Linked DNA regions of Homo sapiens: region 1 is linked to region 2. The links come from fine-mapping of genetic effects on gene expression. A gene starts in region 2. The other region holds a variant in brackets. All regions are shown on one strand. Distances are between the middles of the regions. Region 1 overlaps DDX60L (DExD/H-box 60 like). Region 2 holds the start of DDX60 (DExD/H-box helicase 60).

The links. PIP is the estimated chance that this variant, and not a neighbour inherited with it, causes the effect.
Region 1: its variant is the best candidate, but not a certain one, in a credible set for the expression of DDX60 in whole blood (INTERVAL, PIP 0.62).

What each region holds. Positions count from the first base shown.
Region 1 is chr4:168,373,758-168,384,269 of GRCh38, reverse strand. It overlaps DDX60L (DExD/H-box 60 like), which reads left to right. Exons shown (of 38, transcript NM_001012967.3): 31 at 4,440-4,544; 32 at 4,766-4,907; 33 at 5,795-5,916; 34 at 8,746-8,893; 35 at 10,462-10,512. Among named protein-coding and RNA genes, the nearest start is that of DDX60, 60 kb to the right of the region's middle. RefSeq lists enhancers at 4,886-5,055, 7,519-7,688. The variant A/G (reference allele first, on the strand shown) is at 5,458.
Region 2 is chr4:168,312,040-168,322,551 of GRCh38, reverse strand. It overlaps DDX60 (DExD/H-box helicase 60), which reads left to right and starts at 3,800. Exons shown (of 38, transcript NM_017631.6): 1 at 3,800-3,930. RefSeq lists an enhancer at 3,537-3,866.

The DNA.
Region 1 (10,512 bases), 62 kb before region 2:
CTCAAGCAATCCACCCACTGTATTAGGGTTCTGTAGAGTGACAGAACTAATAGGATAGATATATGTATAAAGAAGAGTTTATTAAGTATTAACTCACATGATCACAAGGACCCATAATAGGCCATCTGCAAGCTGAGGAGCAAGGAAGCCAGTCTGAGTCCCAAAATGAAAGAACTTGGAGTCTGATGCTCAAGGGCAGGAAGTATCCAGCACAGGAGAAAGATGTAGTTTGGGAGACTAAGTCAGTCTAGCCTTTTCATTTTTTCTGCCTGCTTTATATTCTGGCCATGCTGGCAGCTGATTAGATGGTGCCCACCCACATTAAGGGTGGGTCTGCCTTTCCCAGCCCACTGAGTCAAATGTTAATCTCCTTTGGCAACACGCTCAAAGACACACCTAGGATCAATACTTTGAATGCTTCAATCCAATCAAGTTGACACTCAGTGTTAACCATCACACCTGCCTTGGCCTCCCAGAATGTTGAGATTACAGGTGTGAACCAGTGCACTTGGCCAAGAAACTTTTTATCTGAGGAATGTGAGTGCCCTTTAATTATCAGGCCCAGAGAGGCATTGGAGTGTGACAGGGTGTGACAGCAGTCATGTCTCACTCCCCTCGTGAGCTAAATAATTACCTCTTGAAGCCACTTCCTATGTGAACTCTAGGCTAACTGACATGAAGTAGCCATAAAACACCATACATTGGACACCATACCTCATTCCTTGTAGTTCAACAATGTATAGCCAATCACAAATCAATGTTATTTCTGTAAAACTGTGAGAACTCCTGTCAAAAAACTTTGTATCAGCCCACTTCTTGTCCCCTTTTGCCTTTAAAAATCTACTTGTAGCAAAGGCTGAGCAGAATACTTTTTGGGACAACTTGGAAGTGTGTCTGTCCCAGACAGCTGTCTTCAACCTTGGCCCAAATGAACTCTCTATATTAATTTTGCCCCAGTATTTTTCACGTCAACAGTAGCAATAGCTCTTCAGTTTCATCACTCTTTTAATGCTTTGCATTTTCTTGATTATTATATGTTTCTTCAGGACAGAAAAAAATAATTTTGTTTTACCACCAAAGACCATAAGGCATTAAGAATTACCAGGGTTATTTTAATGTGTGAAAAGCAATATAGTATAGTGGTTGAATATTGGCTATAGACTCATAAAGGTCTGGAATAGGTCCCTGGTTCAATTATTTACTGACTATTTAACTTTAATAAGGCAATTACATTTTCCTAAATCTCAGAACTGTCAGCTACAAAATGGCAATAACAACCACTATAAATTATAGTTAATGCAAGTCAAGGACTTCTTAGCATCATATTCGATGAGTAGTAAACACATAAATGCTAGCTATTATTGTTTGTAGTCTCAGGTCTTATGATTTTAGTTTTAGGTTTTTTTTGTTTTGCTTTAGTGTTCATTAAAGAGAAGAATGGGAAAAGCACTTGCTAACTTTTTCATTCTTTTTATATGTTGATTTTTACTTTTTCCTTTATAAAGGAAGTCAAGTATGAGTGAAAACTGATAATATAACTTGTTTTTGACTGTCTATATATTTTTTGTGGAAAAATAGATTTGCTTCTACCTTAAATTCTGTTATGTTGTCAGCATTTGCCACTTAATTAATTAGATCAATATGAAATTTTTACATTAAAGAATTATTAGAAGAATTATAAGTGAAATGAAAGATTGAATGTATTCTCAAATGTGTCACTCTTAATTCCAGATAAAAATGAGGAAAACAGTATTGCTGTATTAAAAATAAAAATTATATTTTAAATATAAAATAACCTGTTTATAAAAGTTTATTTGGAACCATAGAAAAGCTGAAAGAAGGAAAAATCACCCATACCTAGTTCCACTACTCACTTGATCTTAGCCAAAAGGCCAAGAAGCGATAGTTCCACTACTCAAAGGAAACTGCTTTATTATTTTGGTATATTTCTTCCAGTCTTTTCTACCTAAATGTGGGTAAGTGTTTGCTTTTTAAAGAATGGATGCAGTTATGTTGAACTAGATGTCAGAATTTGGTAAATTTGCCTGAGGTTTTCAATCAGAACAATTTTGGGGGATGTAACCCCATGTTGAGTAATATATAATTCACATTAAAATTTAAATTTAATAAAATATCATTGTAAGGTTACCAAGTTTTCCATATTCTTATATATTCATTATCATGGCCAGTTACGTCAGATTCCACTTGCCAAGACAAAGAGTCTTCCCAGAACCCTGTAATGAGTCAGGTGTGTGCCTTTTGATAGTCACAGAGAACAGCGACACCCAGTTCTATGTAAAAGTGGCCCCATTCTTGGTTTTGATTACTCTCCCAGGAAGAGAGAGTAGTACACTTTAAAGGTTTTTGTTATTGTTTTTCATATAATAACGTTTGTGAGGGTGGCATATTTTCTGGGCTCCTGCGTATTTGAGGAGATTTTTTCTTTTGTAGTAAGGACAATTTAACCTGGCATAAATTTTTTGGATTTGAGCCATTAGTCTTCAGAATTGTCGATGCTTCATTTTCTTTGGCATCTACTGTTGTGGAGATATAATCTGTGGCCCTACTGATTGCTGTTTTCTTGTAGGTCACTTGACTTTTTCTGCCCATGTATATGGATCCTTTTCTTTATTCTTATATGTTACTTTTTTAGGAGAAGTTTCTAGTTATAGTTTTTTTTTTTAAAAAAAATTGATAGTGTTTATCATATTCAGAACCTTTTCAATTTATCACATTCAAGTTGTTTTTGAAGAAGTATATTTATTAAATTAGATTTTTAATTTGATTTCTATTTTAATTGCTTTGGTTTCTTTATTAGAAAAAGTTTCACTGGCTGGGTATGGTGGCATATACCTGTAGTCCCAGCTATTTGGGAGGCTGAGGCAGGAGGATCACTTGAGTCCAGGAGTTTGAGGTTGCAGTGAGCTATGACCTACTGCACTCCAGCCTGTGATGGGAGGGAATGCTGCAAAGGTCTCTGAAATGTCTGTGAGGACTTTTCCAATTGTCTTGACTATCAGCATTTGCCTTCCTTTTAGTTATACAAATACATGCAGGCTGCTTGAATTCCTGCCCAGAAAATAGGCTTTTCTTTTCTGCCACATGGCTAGGCTGCATATTTTTCAGATTTATACTCTGCTTCCCTTTCAAATACAAGTTCTAGTTTCAGGTGATTTCTTTGCTAACACATATGCGCATAGGTTGATAGAAGCAGCCAGGCTACATCTTGAACACTTTGCTACTTAGAAATTTATTTCTGCCACATACCCTAAATCATCTCTTTCAAGTTCAAAGTTCTACAGTTCCCTAGAGCAGGAGCACAATGCAGCTAACCTCTTTGCTAACACTTAACAAAATTGACCTTTGCTCCAGTTCCCAATAAGTTCTTCATCTCCATCTGAGACCTCATTAGCCTGGACTTCATTGTCCATATTACTATTAGCATTTTGATCACAACAGTTTAACAAGTCTTTAGGATCCAAACTTTCCCTCATCTTCCTGTCTTCTTCTGAGCCCTCCACAAAATTCCAACCTCTGTCCACTATGCAGTTCCAAAATCGCTTCCACATTTTCAGATATCTTTATAGCAGTGCCCCACTCCTCAGTATCAACTTCCTGTATTAGTTCATTCTCACGCTGCTATACAGAGACACTTGAGACTGGGTAATTTATAAAGAAAAGACATTTTATTGGCTTATGGTTCTGCAGGCTGTACAGGAAGCATAAGTAGCTTCTGCTTCTGGGTAGGCCTCAGGAAACTTTCAATCATGTCAGAAAGTGAAGCAGAAGTAGGCCGTGTGTTACATGCATGGCTGGAGCAGGAGGAAGAGAGGTAGAGGGGAGGTGCTACACACTTTTAAACAACCAGATCTCATGATAACTCACTATCATGAGAACAGCACCAGAGGGGAAATTCACCTCCATGATCCAATCACCTCCAATCAGGCCCCACCTCCAACACTGGGGATTACAATTTGACATGAAATTTGGGTGATGACACAGATCCAAATATTTCCATTCTGTTGACTGCAATCTACCTAATTCCATTAGGTTTAATGGGATAACTCAAGATTCAGAACAATATAATTACTCTATTTACCTTTAGAATGGCCTAAGACAACTAATCTTGTAAGCCGGATTGGCTTTCATACTTCATTTTTTCAGGCCACTATTGGTCACCACTGTTTCAGGGATTTAGCAGATTATTTGCCAGTCTGGGTTATGTATAACAGTTCTGCTTTATATGATGTATTTAATTCAAGGAAGCATGTGCCATGTGAAGATACAATCAAAGAGATAATATGAAATCAAATGAAATTTACTTTCACGTAAGATCTGGTAACCTTATCTATATAGTATGTATGTGTACTATTTATTACATATCAGTATTTACAAATACTGTTTAAAACTAGATAAATTAAAGTACTCTTCTTTTATAGGTGTTGTCAGTGCTAAAGCATTCATTGCTGTCTTTTAAGAGACGAAGAGCCATGGAGACTTTGAAACTTTACTTTTTGTTTTCCTTGCAGCTCCTTATCAAAGAGGTATCATCGTGCTTTGGCTTTTTGTTCTCTGTAACTAGTACCGTGTAAACTTCTTTCTATGCTAAACCAACTGAAATTTCTATAATCTGCATTCAATGATAATGTTACTTATCATTTATTAATAAATGAAGTCAGGTAATATTTGTCAGTCACTCACACTGGTATTTTATGGTATTTGAGTACATGACAAGTTAAATCAACTTTTTGTTTCTCATTTTTAGGACTATTTAAATAAAAAGGGTAATCCAAAGAAATTTGCAGGACTTGCATCATATTTGCATGGTCATGAACCTTCAAATCTTGTTTTTGTAAATTTTCTCAAGAGAGGCCTTTTCCATAATCTCTGTAAGCCAGCCTGGAAAGGTAAGCTTGGGTTTTATACCTGTAGTCGAAAAATGGCAACATATTTATTGAATAGCCAAAACCGCAGATATGTTTTTCTCTTCTTCCTCCTTCTCATTTATTAAAGCAAATAAATACTAAGTATATGTTCAGATTTACAGATGCCAAAAAATTAGACACTAAAAGTCAACTGATATTTATTCTAATAAAGAGTATTTGAGGGCTACTTATATATTACTTAACTGATAAAGAATATTTGCAGAAGAGAAAACGGAGAAGCATAGAAAGACAATAAGTTTCTGATGGTCATATGATTTTAGTATGCTTCAGAGCCCAGTTAATTAAACCTAGCCACCTTTTAATGCCCACAGTATGGTGCTCATGCGTTATGGGGAGTGGAGAGTAGGTCAAGATGACCAGAACCTAGAGCTAGTGTTTAGAAGTGTTGGTAGGTAAGTTTGGAAGCTTTGTTTTGACAGGATTTGAAACACCCTAAAGAGCAGGCCAAGGAACCTGGATTTTTCAATTAGCCGTTGAGATACCCTCAAAGGTTTTTGAGTAAAGGAGGGAT[A/G]TGTTTATATTCATGCTTTGGAAAGGCTGATCACTCTCAAGATGGCCTGAAGAAAGGAGAGTGCAAGTCAGGAAACCAGTTAGTAAACATTCTGGGGTGGGAACTAGGGCGGGTATAGCAAGGATGGAAAAACAAGGCACAGAATATAAAATCTCCTGTCTTACCCAAAAAAATAAATGTGCACATAGTATTGCAAATATGGTCAATTTCTGAGGTATATATTTGCTAGAAAATTTTGCCTTCAACAAAAGGAAATGTACTATAAAAACAAATTTAGGCAGAAAATAAATGGAATCAACATTATTCTTATTTATAATAATGCTCTTTATTTCAATAGGCTCACAACAATTTTCCCAAGATGTGATGGAAAAGCTCGTGTTAGTATTGGCAAATTTGTTTGGAAGAAAATATATTCCAGCAAAATTCCAAAATGCTAATTTAAGTTTTTCTCAGTCAAAGGTAAAGTTTGTTATACTTACAATGATATAATAATGATAGTTATTAAATGTATGCTACTGGAAAGCATTCAGTACCTATAGGGTTAAATTAATATAAGCTACTCCATTTGTTTTAATAGTGTTGTCTTTTCATAATTAGAGTTCTATTTAATTTTTAGTTCAAACATCTTCCCCTGCTAATCTAACAAACAATTCTTATCCCTAAAGTTTTTTCACTTTATTGGAGCAAATTATGTAATTCAGTAGCAACAGAGATTACATACACAAATAGTCATTTAAATAGAATGACAGCCCTACTGCTGAACCTATAGTTCCATTGGGATTGTTTACAGCTAGGGATGGGAGTGCAGGGAAGGAATTACATTATGACCTCTAATGTCCTCTTCAGACAATATTGAGGTGGTCACCTAAGAAAGAATCCCCTAACTTAAGGGTTGAGAGACTGAAAGAAAAATTATTTTCTAAGTTTTTTTGTAACACTGTTTGTTTCCAATTTCTTATTTTTTTAAAGACACAACAACAAAATAATAACAAGCAAACAGAACCCAAGAAAATGTGCATTAGAACCTGGGAATGTAGAAGAAGCTTGTTTCTATCCAGTAACCCTAGTGAATAGAGAACAAAAAGGTAATTAGCATTAATCTAGGCTTTCTGACCTCACAATGCCTCTGGATATACCTCCAGACCTGAGCACCCAATTTTAGTTACTGACATATATCCACATTGCAAACCACTGGAACTGTTAATCATTTTCTTAAATGCATACACATTTTAAAGTATTTAAAAAGGAAACTTCATATTTACTACTACTGTAAATAGAAAGCCAGGATCTTTGATTTCAAAACTAAGGAAGCCATAAAAATAGATGCAGTTAACATGGTTCTCAGCTGAAGCTTCTCTCTCTTTGCTACAAAAAGAGATTATAAACTTTTAGAGAAACAATGGTGGTCTATTGCCTCTGGACTTTCTAGGGTTATCAGAAAGAATAGAAGAGGACTGGAAAGAAGATATTTTTATTTATTTATTTATTTATTTATTTATTTATTTATTTATTTATTTATTTGAGACAGAGTCTTGCTCACTCACCCAGGCTAGAGTGCAGTGGCGCAATCTCAGCTCACTGCAACTTCCACCTCCCAGGTTCAAGCCATTCTCCTGCCTCAGCCTCCCAAGTAGCTGGGATTACAGGCTTCGCCACCACGCTTGGCTAATTTTTTTGTATTTTTAGTACAGTTGAGGTTTCATCAGGTTGGCCAGGTTGGTTTTAAACTCCTGACCTCAAGTGATGCGCCCGCCTTGGCTTCCCAAAGTGGTGGGATTACAGGCATGAGCCACCATGCCCAGCCCACTTTTTATTTTTTAAAACTGATGTATAATTACTCAATGTTCTGTGTGTCACACTAAATCATCTCATGTACCTCTTATATTATGTACCATAATTTGGGATAACTGCTCTATATTAGTCAATTAGCAAAGATTTATTGAGCAATAAATATGTGTAAACTATAGCAAAAATCATGATTGGGAAACATAGTTGCTACCTTCCAAGAGCTTGCTCTCCTGATGGGGCTGTATAGCATACACATTCGAGAAGGTGGCAAACAACACAAGGTGTACATGGTAAGCAGCACGTGCTGCCCTAGAACGGTGTCCAGCAGTGGCACAATGGCAGGACATGGAAGGCATAGCAGTAAAGAGACCATATCACTTTGACCAGAGTGTAGAGCTGCACCTGTCAATTTATTCTTTTGTCTTGGTCCATCCACAGATGGAGCTGAGTCCGAAGTAGGCTTGTGGAAATTGTCATACTATCCACTGTAAGGAGTTGGTAGGGGCATTCTTTATTATGTCCACACGGTTGCCTTTTGTAAGAATCCCCCTGGAAAATTCTTACCTGATATTAGTGCTGAGAATAAATAGCTGTTTATCTCATAGACATTCTGAAATGTGTCATTCACACTTGCTCCTAGGAATCTTGGAATATAATTTGTGCCCCATTTTAGTCTCTTTCTTGTTTTTCTTTCCTTTTTACCAAATTTTGATTTATATGATCATATTGTATTATCTTTACCCTTATAAAATACCTCAATTATTGGAAAAGTACAGGTTATGAATAAATTAAGGAAAATATCAAATAAATAATAAAACCCATAATTGTAACAGAAGAAAACCAAGAACATTTCTAATGTCATAGCTATTTCTAACTCACACTAAAGAAACTTCTAGTCCTAATTCTGAAAGAATTTGTTTTTAAACATGAAATTTGGAAGCTGAGTTAGCTTGCAATACCAGCTACTTCTCTATCTACTACCTGTCAGGTTTGGAACAAGTTTACCTCTGTGAGGGTTAGCTCCCTCATGTACAAAATGTAGATGAAAATGTTTACTGCATAGGGTTGTTCTCAGGATTAACTGAGCTAACATATAACAAGTGCTTGGGGCAGCAAAGCACAGTGTTGGCACATAATCTGAACTCAATAAAGCATTGACGCTACTACTGCTACACTAACTTGTTACTTGCTCTCTAAATATGTCCCTCAAGTCTCTGAAATATACCTAAGTTTAAGATCAGTGTAGGACATGTTTCTATTAAATTGGTGGTTTTGGCTAAGTGGAGTCAAAATAACTTTTTTAAGGAAAGATACTTACATTTATAAATGTTGGTTGAAATCAAAAGGAAATTTTACCTTAATCTCACAGGTGAGTAAAGTAATCAAGGGTTTTGATGAATGAGCATCAATCTACAGAACTATGCTGCAATCTTATCACCAAGCAGTTTAATTTTTTAAATAAAAGTAAAGAGATCTTTCTGAAATGTATTTCGCCCATAGGTGATCCTTGCCGAACTCCCGGAGGATTTTAAAGCTGCTTTATATGAGTATAACCTGGCAGTAATGAAGGATTTTGCCTCCTTCCTGCTGATTGCTTCCAAGTCGGTGAACATGAAAAAAGAGCATCAACTCCCTTTGTCAAGAATCAGTAAGCAGATTTTAGTTCCATTCCGGAACAATTTAAAGAGTAAACAATCTTGGTTAAGAAAGCCTCTGGATATTGGATGCTTCAAAGCTGGTAAAGGAGCTTATTACAGGGCAGCTGTACTAACCCAAGTGTTTTATCCCCAGAAAACAATTTAGCCCATTGTAGGGTGTGATAATGGCTCTGTTTTCCAATTAAAAAAAAACTTTATAATTACCAAATATTAATTGGGCAATGGAGGAAAAAAAATAAAAGTCATTCATGAACCATTTTGATGGAAAGTTGCCTATCTGTTCAGGTTGGAAAACTGGATCAGAAAAAGTGACAGATGAAAAAGAAAACGGCATAATTTCTGGCATTTTTTTCCCCTGAGGGGCAGTTGCATAGTGGTTACAAATGTGAACACTGGCAGCAGAATGCCAAGGTCTAAATCCTGGCTCTGCTACTTATTAACCATGAGGTCTCATGCCAGTTACTTAATCTTTCTGTGTCTCATTTTTTTAATCTGTAAAATGAAATGACTAAAAATATTACCTAGCTTACAGAATTTTAGAGGATTAGGTATATTAATGTTTATAAGTTTCTTAAAACAGTGCATAGCACATAGTCAACATCGCGTAAGTCTATTCTACCCAACATGGTAGCCACCAGCTAGCTACGTGTCACTATTTAAATTAAGTTGATTAAAAATAAAACAATTGAAAAGTTAATTCTTTAGTCACTTTAGCTTTAGTCACGTTAACTTTCCAGTGCTAGTGGCTTCTACTTTGGACACAGTAGAGGTAGAATATTTCCATCATTACGGAAAGTTCTAGCAGACGTTGCAAATATCATTCTTTGCTTCAATTATTTGTTCTTGATTGAGGAGTAACTGGTATTGCAAAGTAACTAAGCTTCCAAATTTCAATTTTATAGCGGGAAACTTTTAGGGGAGAATAAATGGAAAGAAGCTAGACTAAGAGTAAAGAGTGGAGCCATAAAATGATTCCCATATTCCCCTGTCTCCTAATATAGTCATAGTTGGAGTAAAAGACAGGGAGGTAAGCATTGTAGCTACTCAAGATTTGTTGATGTAGGACACAGCATGAGCAAATGCAGACAATAATGGTGGAAGCAAGGAAAGTAGTGCAGAGAAAAGATGATGGGAGTGTGTGATTGTGTCGTGATGGGAAAAACGAGCCAGACCTGAGTGCATGACTTGGTGCCTTCCAAGTCCAGCGAGATGGTACTCGCTGGACAGAACCTCTGTTTTATCTCTTATGCCAGCTCCAAATCCACTGGTAGGAGCTGCCTGAACATCATGTCTAGGAGGTTTCTGAGGTTATATCTGAGTTCATAGGCAAAAATAACAGGTAATAAAAAAGAGTAATGATAATAAGTTAATAGTCAACATGGATTGAATGATTACTCTGTGCCAAGCTGTGTTAATGACTTTATGCACCATATCTCAATCAGTTTTCATTCTGATGAGATGAATGTCACCTACTGTGGCTTGACCTACAGTGAGTTTGAAAGGGTTAACATTTGGGCTGATTTTTAAAACCTAACGTGACCTAGTCCAAAATGGTCAGAATTCACAGGTAAAGAATGTGAAGACTCCCAACTCGTGTCTCACTTGATGA
Region 2 (10,512 bases):
ATGTGCTCAGTTTTACCTGCTGAAAAAATGCAGCAGAGTAGAAAATGAATTGGAGGGACAGACTGGAGTTAGAAAGTGAAAAGGTTGTTTCAATAATCCAGATGAGAAATGATGAGGCTTGCTCTAGCCTTTGGAAAAATGGAAGAGTCAAGAGACTCAAGATTCTGTAAGTGTTTGGAGTTGGAATTTACTGGGATTTGAGGGAAGTGAGGATGCAACAATGGCTCCCAGGTTTCTAACTTGAGCAGTAGTTATGTGATGATTCTGCTGATCCTTACAGAGAAGGTGGGAAAAGAAATTGATTTGAAGGAGAAGATTGTAACTGAAATCAAGGGAGAAGAGGCACTTTAGAAGAGAGGGGCTGTACAAACTATCTTTCTAATGCTGAACAGAGGCAAGTAAATCAAACAGGGACTAAACAAGCATTGTTTGGATTTGTCAATTAGTGGATCCTCATTGGATATCTTTGACAGAGCAGTTCCAGATCAGATTTAGGCTAATGGGCCTGAGAAATTTGAAGGGAGGTGAAGAAGTGTAGCCAATGGATGAAGACCACTACAGGGCACCATGCTGAAAAGAGAAGGGCTGAAATCGGGCATGACATCATTTTTCTTATTGTTTGAAAATGGAAGTTTGAACCTATTGAACCTATTCAATTCAATAGGTTCAATTAGAATTGAATTCTATTGAATTGAGTTCTATTGAATTGAATAGGTTCTAATTGAACCTATTAGTGGAATGAACACTATGTTTTAGTTGACAAAGAGATGTTAAAATACACAACAAACTGAAGAATGATGGGCTAGGATGCTTGAGGGGAGATCCAAACCCAGATCTAGAAGGCTAGTTATGTTGTGTGTAAGTGGCATGCTGTGTGTTCTGCTTAAACTCTGTGTGAGACTGGAATATGGAGTTATCAGAAAGCTGGAGAGAATTCTCCTTGAAAACAGAAGAGATGGTCTATCATTTAAAAGACTTGAGAATGGTAAAGTGCTGAATTGTAACTGTCATTGTGAAATATGCAGAAGGCTGAGGGGAACAGAAAAAAAGGTATCAGCTGTGTTGTTAAATAATACATTTGATGAGATCCTAACTGGGTCATTCCCCTTGGTGGCCAGGTATCAAAAAGAAAAGAAAACTTGAATTAATCAGGATTAACAAATTATAGGCAAGTGTAGAGGAAAGTCAGTAGGTTCAAGCAGTTGAACATGTTAATTAAGAGGAGAGTTGAAGTGTTGGCTCATGGAGTTCACCCTGATAGGACAAACATTTGGGAGTCCTCAGAGGTTAAAGTGTAGGGCATAAAGGGAGGGGTCTAAAAGGAAAAATAAAGTACGTGACTATCAAGCTTCAGAACAAAGTCCAGGGTGTGGTCATGGGAGTAGGCTGTTGAAGTGAAAAAGTAAAAAAAAAATAAAAAGTTTCTGTGTGTTTACATACTTTGGGGTGGAAAATTGAAGAGGATGAGTCAAAGTTGTCTTGAACTCTCACCTGATAAATCCGGTCACTGAAAGTCGAAACAACTGTAGAACATCATATATTCTAAAAAACTTTATAATTTAAGCAAAAAAAAATCATTTGTCCACTAGCTGAAACACTTTCAGTTGTAGAATTTGAAGCATTTGATGAAATTATGTAATAGAGAATGTTGTAGATAGGCCATTGGGTTAGACCACATTTTGAATCTTAGTATAATTTATTAGCTGTTTTATCCCTCGAAGCTTTATTTTTCTTATCTACAGAATGACAGAAATCATAGTACACACCTCATGAACTTGCTGTGATCATTGATATGGTATTAGCATATTGCTTAGCACATAGTAGCTGTCTGAATTAATTCTACCTCTTGTTATAACACAATCCATTATTTCTGCTGTTTGCAAATATGTTATTCATTTCCTACAATACAGTTTGCAATATTGTATTAGTTCTCTATGGCTGCTGTAACAAATTACCACAAATTTAGTGGCTTAATACCACACAAGTTTGTTCTCTTACAGTTCTGAGCTCAGAGGTTCAAAATCAGTCTCTCTGGGCTGAAGTCAAGGTGTTATCAGGGCTGATTTCTGGAGGCTCTAGAAAAAAAAAATGTTTCCTTGCCTTTGGTAGTTTCTAGAGACCACCAGACTCCTTGGCCCGTGGTCCCTTCCACTGTCTTCAACGCCATCTGTGTAGTGTCCCCACATTCTGTCACTGACTGTTTCTATCATCACATTGCCCCTCGAACTCCTGTCTCCCTCTTATAAAGGCCCTTCTGATGACCTTGGGCCCACCTGGATAATCCCGGGTAAGGGGTAATCTCCTCTTCTAAAGATTCTTATTTAATCTATTTTGCAAAGTTACTTTTGCTATGAAAGTTACTGTATTCATAGGTTCCAGGAATTAGGATTTTGGCCTCTTTTGGAGGGAGGAGTGCAGGGTATTATTCAGCCTACCCCAGGCAGGTACATCAGAGATCACAGTGAAGGAGACAGGAATATTGGCTGATTTAAGACCAATCATGTGTTAAATTCTAGAGTCTTTTATTTTCTTTCTTAATCTCATCACTAACAAACACGTGAATTTCTAAACAAATGAATAAACAAGTAATTGTCTGATGGATGTGAGAAATGTCCTCCTTCCCCATATCCCCCTCTTTTAACAACTTGACTCTCTAATTTTTCACAAGACAAAGTATCATTCACTACTCTCTCTGTTCTGTGTTCCCTGTGGAGCAGTGCCTGGACCTTGGCTCTTTCCTTTCCTTGTAGACAAAGCAGCCTGTGGCTTCTTATCATGCTGATTACCCAAATTCACTGCTGTCTTTCCTCCACACCCTCTTCTATTTCCAATATATGAATGCATATTTATAGCATTAATGAAATCAAGCATACGAGGGCACTGAAAGGAAAGGAGATGAGTATCGAAACCCACACTGCAAGTATCAACAGGCAAAAATTAAGAGAACATTTCATCAATTTGAGGCACAAATAAATGTGACCATTCTGCATTTTCAATTTATTTTTTAATGTTGATTCTTGGCCCATGAAAGTACCAATTACAGTTTATACAGAACAGTAATCATCAGCTTCTCATAACAGAAACTCAAAGTTCATGTATTGTTACATACTTTCTTTTTTCTTTTTGCATACAAGTAGAAGCAGCAAGATCTCCAATTTCATTGTGGGGTTTCAGATTCCACAGTGTCTTTTACATTTTATCAATTTCTAAATTCTAACTCTTCTTGATTTTATCTTGTTTAGATGTTACAAATTTTTCTGCCTCAATTTACTCTATATTTATGCCCAAATTCCAAAGCCCATTTTTATTGCCTTTGTCTCTCTCTTTTAAGGTTTTTTTTAGTTTCATTTTATTTTTAATTGACGCATAATAATTGTATATATTTTTGGGGTACAATGTGACGTTTCAATACATGTATACATTGTGTGATGATCAAATCAGGATAATTAGCCCATCTATTACCTCAAAACTTTACTATTTCTTTGTGATGAGAATATTCAAAATTCTCTCTTCTAGCTATTTTGAAATATGCATTATTGTTAACTATACACACCCTACTGCAGAATAGAATACCAGAACTGGTTCTTCCTAGCTATTGTAACTTCATACCTTTTAACTAACGTCTCGCCATGCTCCCCTTCTTAAGATTCTGATTGAAGGGAAGGATGCTAAACTTTCCACGAAAGTGCCTCGCCTAATTCGTGCTGAAGGGAAACTGAAACCTAAGTGCTTCTGAGAGGAGAAAGGAAACCGAAACTCCCGCCGGATGCATAAAAGACTGGCTGCGGTGGCTCAGAGCGCCGAGTCCTAGGCCAGGTCTGGGGTAACCTGGAACTTCCACCTGGGCTCTGCGCTAGGTCTCTGTTTCACTCCCTCCCCGCGGGGCGCGCAGCTCGCGGGTCTTTGGACACCACCGGTCCTGAGTCCGCGGTGAGGAGCCGGGGATGTCCCTTGGGAAGAGCCTGGGGCGGAGCTGTCTAGCGGGAGTTCTAGGTCTTCTTCAACGGACCGGACAGGGAGGTGGCCCAGGAGTGCTGGGCTCGGGGCGCGGGAATCTGGGGAACCTCCTGGGATCGCAAGGCCGTGGCGCACGGGCCCCCTGCTGGCCCGGAAGGCCGGGCGTGGGGAGGGGCGGAGGAAAGGGACAACCGCGAAAGGCCTGAAGTCTGAGACAGAGAGGAGTGCTTAGTTAGGCATTTAAGGAGTCCCCGTCAAAGGTGGGAGCTGGGTAATGGAGGTTGAGGAGAAATTAAGGGACATCATATCTAAGCACAGCCAGTAAAACCTGTACATTGACAGCAGCAAGAAGCTTCCACCTTCAATCCCTGCTCCAGACTTGTAGAATCAGAATCTGCGTTTATTAATAAGATTCCCCCAGGTAATTTCTGTGCACCCTTAAATTTCAGTGGCTTAAGACAATAGAAATTTATTTCCTACTCCAGTAACTTAATTTATTCCTGGTCAAGGGGCAGGTATAGTGGCTTAAAACATTACAAGTTTATTATTTTACAATTGCTGTGGATCAGAAGCCCAGGCATGGGTAAAGTGAGTTCTCTGTTCAGCATCTCATCGAGCTGAAATCAAGGTGTCAGAGCTGTGGCCTCATGGGACACCATGGATGCTCATTCAGGTTGTTGGAAGAATTCAGTTTCTTGCAGCTAAAGGACTGAGGTTACCTGCTTTCTTGCTGGCTGTTGGCTGGGGGTTCCCATGTCTTTAGATTTCACCCTGAGATCTTAGCTACAGTGGCCTTCTCACAACAAGGTGGCTTATACCGTTAAAGAAGGTATAGGGTACCTTTAAAGAAGGTATAAGCCTCTTTGGGGGAATCTCCCGAGTCTACTATGATGAAGTCTTACATAATATAACCGAATCATTAAAGAGACTATGCCATTAAATTCACAGGTCCTGTCCACACTCAAGGGGAGAGGGTTATACCGGGTACTGGAAGCCATTTTAACCCACCAGCTCTTCTCCAGGCAGGGTTTCAGGAGCTTGATGCCTTTCATCAAGTAGCTCCACCATTCTGTTCCAATACAGAATCCATGATTTCCTTTCCCTTCCCTTGCCCCCATTTTTTTCCTCTTTACCTCCCCTTTGCGCCTTTCCTCTTCCCTCCTTTTTTCTCTTTTCCATTTCTCTTCCTCCCTTCTTCTTTTCTTCTTCCTTTTTAAGATTGTTTGAATCAGAATATGGTTCTGACACTACTGTGATTGGAGGATAAGCCTTATAAGGTTCTTGCAATTTCTTTCATCCCCTTTTAATTTATTCGTTTGTAAGATTTGTGGTCTTATGATTGTTTGTTTTTGTATGTGTGTGTCCTGTTGGGTGTGTGTTTATGTGTGTGTGTGTGTATGTGTCCTAATCCCTGTGGTGTCATTTAACATATTTTGCTGGCCTCTAAATTTCTTGTAAATTAATCATTACTACTAGCGTTTTGATCAGATTCAGGTTTTCTTTTTTTTCTTCTTCTTCTTTTTTTTTTTTTTTTTTTGAGACGGAGTCTTGCTCTTTTGCCCAGGCTGGAATGCAGTGGCTTGATCTCAGTTCACTGCAACCTCTGCCTCCCAGGTTCAAGCGATTCTTCTACCTCAGCCTCCCAAGTAGCTGGGATTACAGGTGACTGTCACCATGCCCAGCTAATGTTTGCATTTTTAGTAGAGATGGGGTTTCACCATGTTGGCCAGTCTGGTCTCGAACTCCCGACCTCAGGTGATCTGCCCGCCTTGGCCTCCCAAGTTTTGGGTTTCTTTTTTTTTTGGCTGGGAGAACTACAATACTTCACTGATGGTGTGGACACTTGCCTCTATTTTTGTTGTGCTATCGTTTAAAAATACCAAGATCTGTTAATTCATTAGGAGTTGTAAAATGGTGATATTCTAATTCTATCATTCCTTCTGTGTTTATTAGCTGCATTATTTCTAGAAATGAATCACTCTTGTATCTACTCTTTGGTAATGCGATGGTGCAGTACTTAGAAGAAAAGCAGGATAATTTCTTGATTCCATAAACCATTATTTTTTTTCATATATTGTCTTCAGATGCTATTGCTGGACATCCTGCTGTGAAAGATGAAGAATTTAGCATTCATATTTATTTTTCTTTCATTCATCCCTTTGTGAACTGCCAAGTTGGTTAATTATATTATTATTTTCATACTGTCAAGGTTTATCATATTTTACAGCAGTTTGTGACTTTGATTCTTGTGATTTGTTTGTATGTTGAGTCAACAGTAAAAAAGAAGTAAACAGCAGTGACAAAATTATGAGTATGTACACATTACTCAGTGTAGAAGCAATCTAGGAATTGCTAGGCTAAGACATGTAGTTCTATGTTGTTAAAATTACTGTTTGAAATAGACTTTTGTAAATTCGAAGTACCATGGGTTCTCTTGTTTTTCTTTATAGCTTCCTTTAACTTTTCTAAATCACACAAAGTTTCATGGTTTTTTGATTGTCTTCATTCTTGATGGGTTTTCCCCAATTTTCTGTATTATCTCTTTAAATAAAATTATCATTTAAGATATATAGTTGGCATTTTGGAAGACAGCGTGGCCATTCCTCAAGGATCTAGAACCAGAAATACTATTCGACCCAGCAATCCCATTACTGGGTATATACCCAAAGGATTATAAATCATTCTACTGTAAAGACACATGCACATGTATGTTGATTGCAGCACTATTTACAATAGCAAAGACTTGGAACCAACCCAAATACCCATTAATGATAGGCTGGATAAAGAAAATGTGGCACATATACCCCATGGAACACTATGCAGCCATAAAAAAGAATGAGTTCGTGTCCTTTGCAGGGACATGAATAAAGCTGGAAGCCATCATTCTCAGCAAACTAACACAGGAACAGAAAACCAAACACCACATGTTCTCACTCATAAGTGGGAGTGGAACAATGAGAGCACATGGACACAGGGAGGGGAACCTCACACACTGGGGCTTGTCGGAGGGTTGGGGGCAAAGGGAGGGAGAGCATTAGGTCAAATACCTAATGCATGAGGTGCTTAAAACCTGGATGACGGGTTGATAGGTGCAGCAAACCACCATGGCACATGTATATCTATGTAACAAACCTGCATGTTCTGCACATGTATTTCAGAACTTAAAATAAAAAAAGGATATATGGTTGGTGAAATTTATGACTTCTTAGAAGTCTAATTACATCTTTTTGCCTCCTCCATGAATTGAATCACTATTTAGATGCAGAATTCTAAGTTCAAATTATTTTCCCTTTAGAAATCTGAAAGTGCTTTATTTTATCAAAACATCCAGGAATGTTGCTTATTTTAATTAATTCTGTGTGCCAGGTATTATTTTAATCAATTCGTATCCATCAGTTCATACATTTAAGTAGCTTGAAAACACAATCAGAGGTGAGTAATATTATTGTTCCAATTTTATAGATAAGTAAATTGAAACTCAGAGATGGTAAATACCTTGTCTAAGCTTATAGAACTATAGTATATTTCAGAACCAAGATTAAAATGCAAGTAGTCGGCCAACAGTGTTCATTTCTTAAACCAGTTCTCATATGGCCTGACTTCCATTTCTTTGTACCTTTTCTGTCTTTCTCTTTATTCTTGGAGCTCTGCAATTTTAACAAGTTGTGCCTAGGCGTAGTTTTCTCTTTTGTCATTATTTCTACTCAGTAGTTAGAGAAACATTTCAATCTAAACACATTATGTTGTTCTTTAGTTCTAGTCTAATATTAGTATATTAGTTTAAGTATATATCTTTGATTATTTTTATCCCCACTCATTTTGGAATCTTAGTTATCTCCTACTAGAAATATTAGTAGGGGGAGAAAGAGCTTATTGACTTATTCCTGGATATTTTAGTATTTTTAGAATTTTTTCATCTCTTTGTCTTTTACTTTTATCCTTTACAAAATTTCCTGGACTTTAACCCTACAGATCACTGACTAAAAATTCCAGCATGCTCATTTTATTGTTCTGCAATGACTTTCTTCCTTGTAAAATTATGTTTTAAATGTGTACGAATACTTGCATGCTTTCTTTTTCTCTTTCTCTCTCTCTAGCAGCCTGTTACTATTTTATGAGAAATATTTTTAATTCTTTGAAAGCAGTAATTAGAAAATTTTGAAGGTCTTTTCTGTCTCTGCATCATGCTTATTCATCTGGTTTCTTATTTTTGCTTTTTTTGTGTGCCTCAAATGTCTATTGGTACTAATTTGTGTGTGTGTGTGTGTGTGTGAGTGTTCAATCATTAGTTACTACAGGTGGCTGGATCTCTAGCATGTCTCTCCCTTAAATGACAGAGAAGTGGGGATAATGACTGTGAATTCTGTTTAGGTGTTAGGGCGTGCATGTGTTGGGGCAGAGGTTAATAGGGTAGCTCTAGTATAGGGTATATAAGAGGAAAGCCTAGGGTGTGTAAGCCTACTTTAGTATAGGGCATGTAAGAGGAAAGCCTATTAGGCTTTACACGCATTGTCTTGCATACCCTGTCCTATGTCATGCAGAGCAACCTGTAGGATCTCAAACTTCCCATAGGCAGGCTACGGAATCCCTTGATTGTCAAATTAAGGAGGGATTGCCCATTAACGCAGTTTTATTTTGTCACCATAGCTATTGCTGAAAGTTTCACAGTGTTTAACGGGCACTCACGTCTCAGTCATAGTTATATTTCATTATAAAAACTATATTATTCCTTTTAATCTATGTATATTATTTCTTAAAACAATTTCTAAGTTGTCAGGACATAAATAGTTATTAATTTGTTTGTATCTAACTACTTAATAAATGAAACGGTTAGCTATTGATTTTGTCCTAGGAGTGGCATAAAAAAATTCCTGAGACTCTAAGAGCATCGTGAACATCTGGGAACCTGTAAATTAACTTATTTCATCTTGTAGAATCTGATGCTATCCTTTCTGAAGTTTTCTGTAATATACTTGGGGTTAATTCTCTCTTGCCTGTTCAGTTCTCACTGACCCATTTTTTTCCATTTGAGCTTGGTACAATTTGGAGAGTTGAAGAAAGATAGTATGGCCAATGCACAGTTAGTGAGGTGGAGGATTGCATGAAATGGGTGACAGAGAGTTTTTTGAAAATACCTAATCTCCTGACCTGGGCACAAGACCCATTATAGTCTGGTTCTAACCTACCTTTCCAATGTCATCTCCAATGAGTCACCCTGTCCTATGCCATGTAGAACAACCCATAGGATCTCAAACTTGTCATGTAGTTTCACAACTTTATGCATTAAACTGATGCTGATTTTGCTACCTGAAAAGTAATTCTCTATATCTCTCACTTTCCCCAACATGCTTTCATAAGTCTTCATCATCTTTTCAACCTGTTCTTGAAACCTCAGAACACAGGACCCTGATCCCTTCATTCTGATTTAGGAACTCCCTCTCAATTCTCTAATGGCTTCCTGTGCCATTTCTGCTAGAACACAGCAAATTAGATGTAGTGTGTCACTTAGTTATCTTTCAACTTACACTGGGTTGTACAAGGAGAGAATCATGCTTCATGCATATTTGCATATGTTTCAGCAAGTACAATGTTTTGTAAAGTGTAGATACTCTATAATCTTTGAAATAAGATAGTAACTGAGTGAGTGAGAGACCATACTTACGCTCGTGTCTCCATTAAGGGTCCCTAAACTCCCCAGCCCACAGTAATTCCATTTTTCTTTAAACTTATTTGTCATTACAGTCATATACTTCCTTGCATTATTATTGTAATATTTAATATCAGCATGTGCATCACCATTATATGTTCCTTACTATCATGGAATAGGAATCTCTCTCTCTCTATCATATCTATCTATCTATCTATCTGTGTATCCATCATCTATATCTATCTATATCAATCAATCTATCTACTATCTATCCATAAATCATGTGTGTATCTACCTATCTGTTTCATAGCCCTAACATATTGAATGGCAAGTGTCTCAATATTTAGTGTCCATGACAAAATGCTCAAGTGCATTTTCATCTACCTCTTTAGTATTTTCTTCTCTATTACCTTTGTGGATTCTTCCTCCTCTCTTGATATATTAAGTATTAGTATCTTCAAATGTGGGTTTTTAGTACTCTTCTCCCATGATGCTGTCTCTCCCTGTCCAAGCAAGCTCATCTACACCAATGGCCTCATTTACCGTTAATACTCAGATGACTTACCTCTTCAAATCTAGTCCAGACTTTGTATTTGTCCTCTAGACTTGTATATTTTACTACTTACATATCATGGCTTATGGGGAATCTTGAAAGCAAGTCAAATTCAGGTGGTTCACAAATGCCGCCATAATCTTTTCCTGACACGTAGCCTTGTTCTAAAATTCCCAGCCCAGGGAATGGCCTAGTCATCCATCCTGTTACTTGAGCTAGAAACTTGTGTCATCCTTGACAACCCCCTTTCCTCTCTTGTCCATCCACATCCAGTCCAGTTCCAAATTATGTCAAGCTCATCTCCTAAATGTCCTTCAAGTGAGTCCACATCTCTCCAGCTTTATTATCTCAGCTA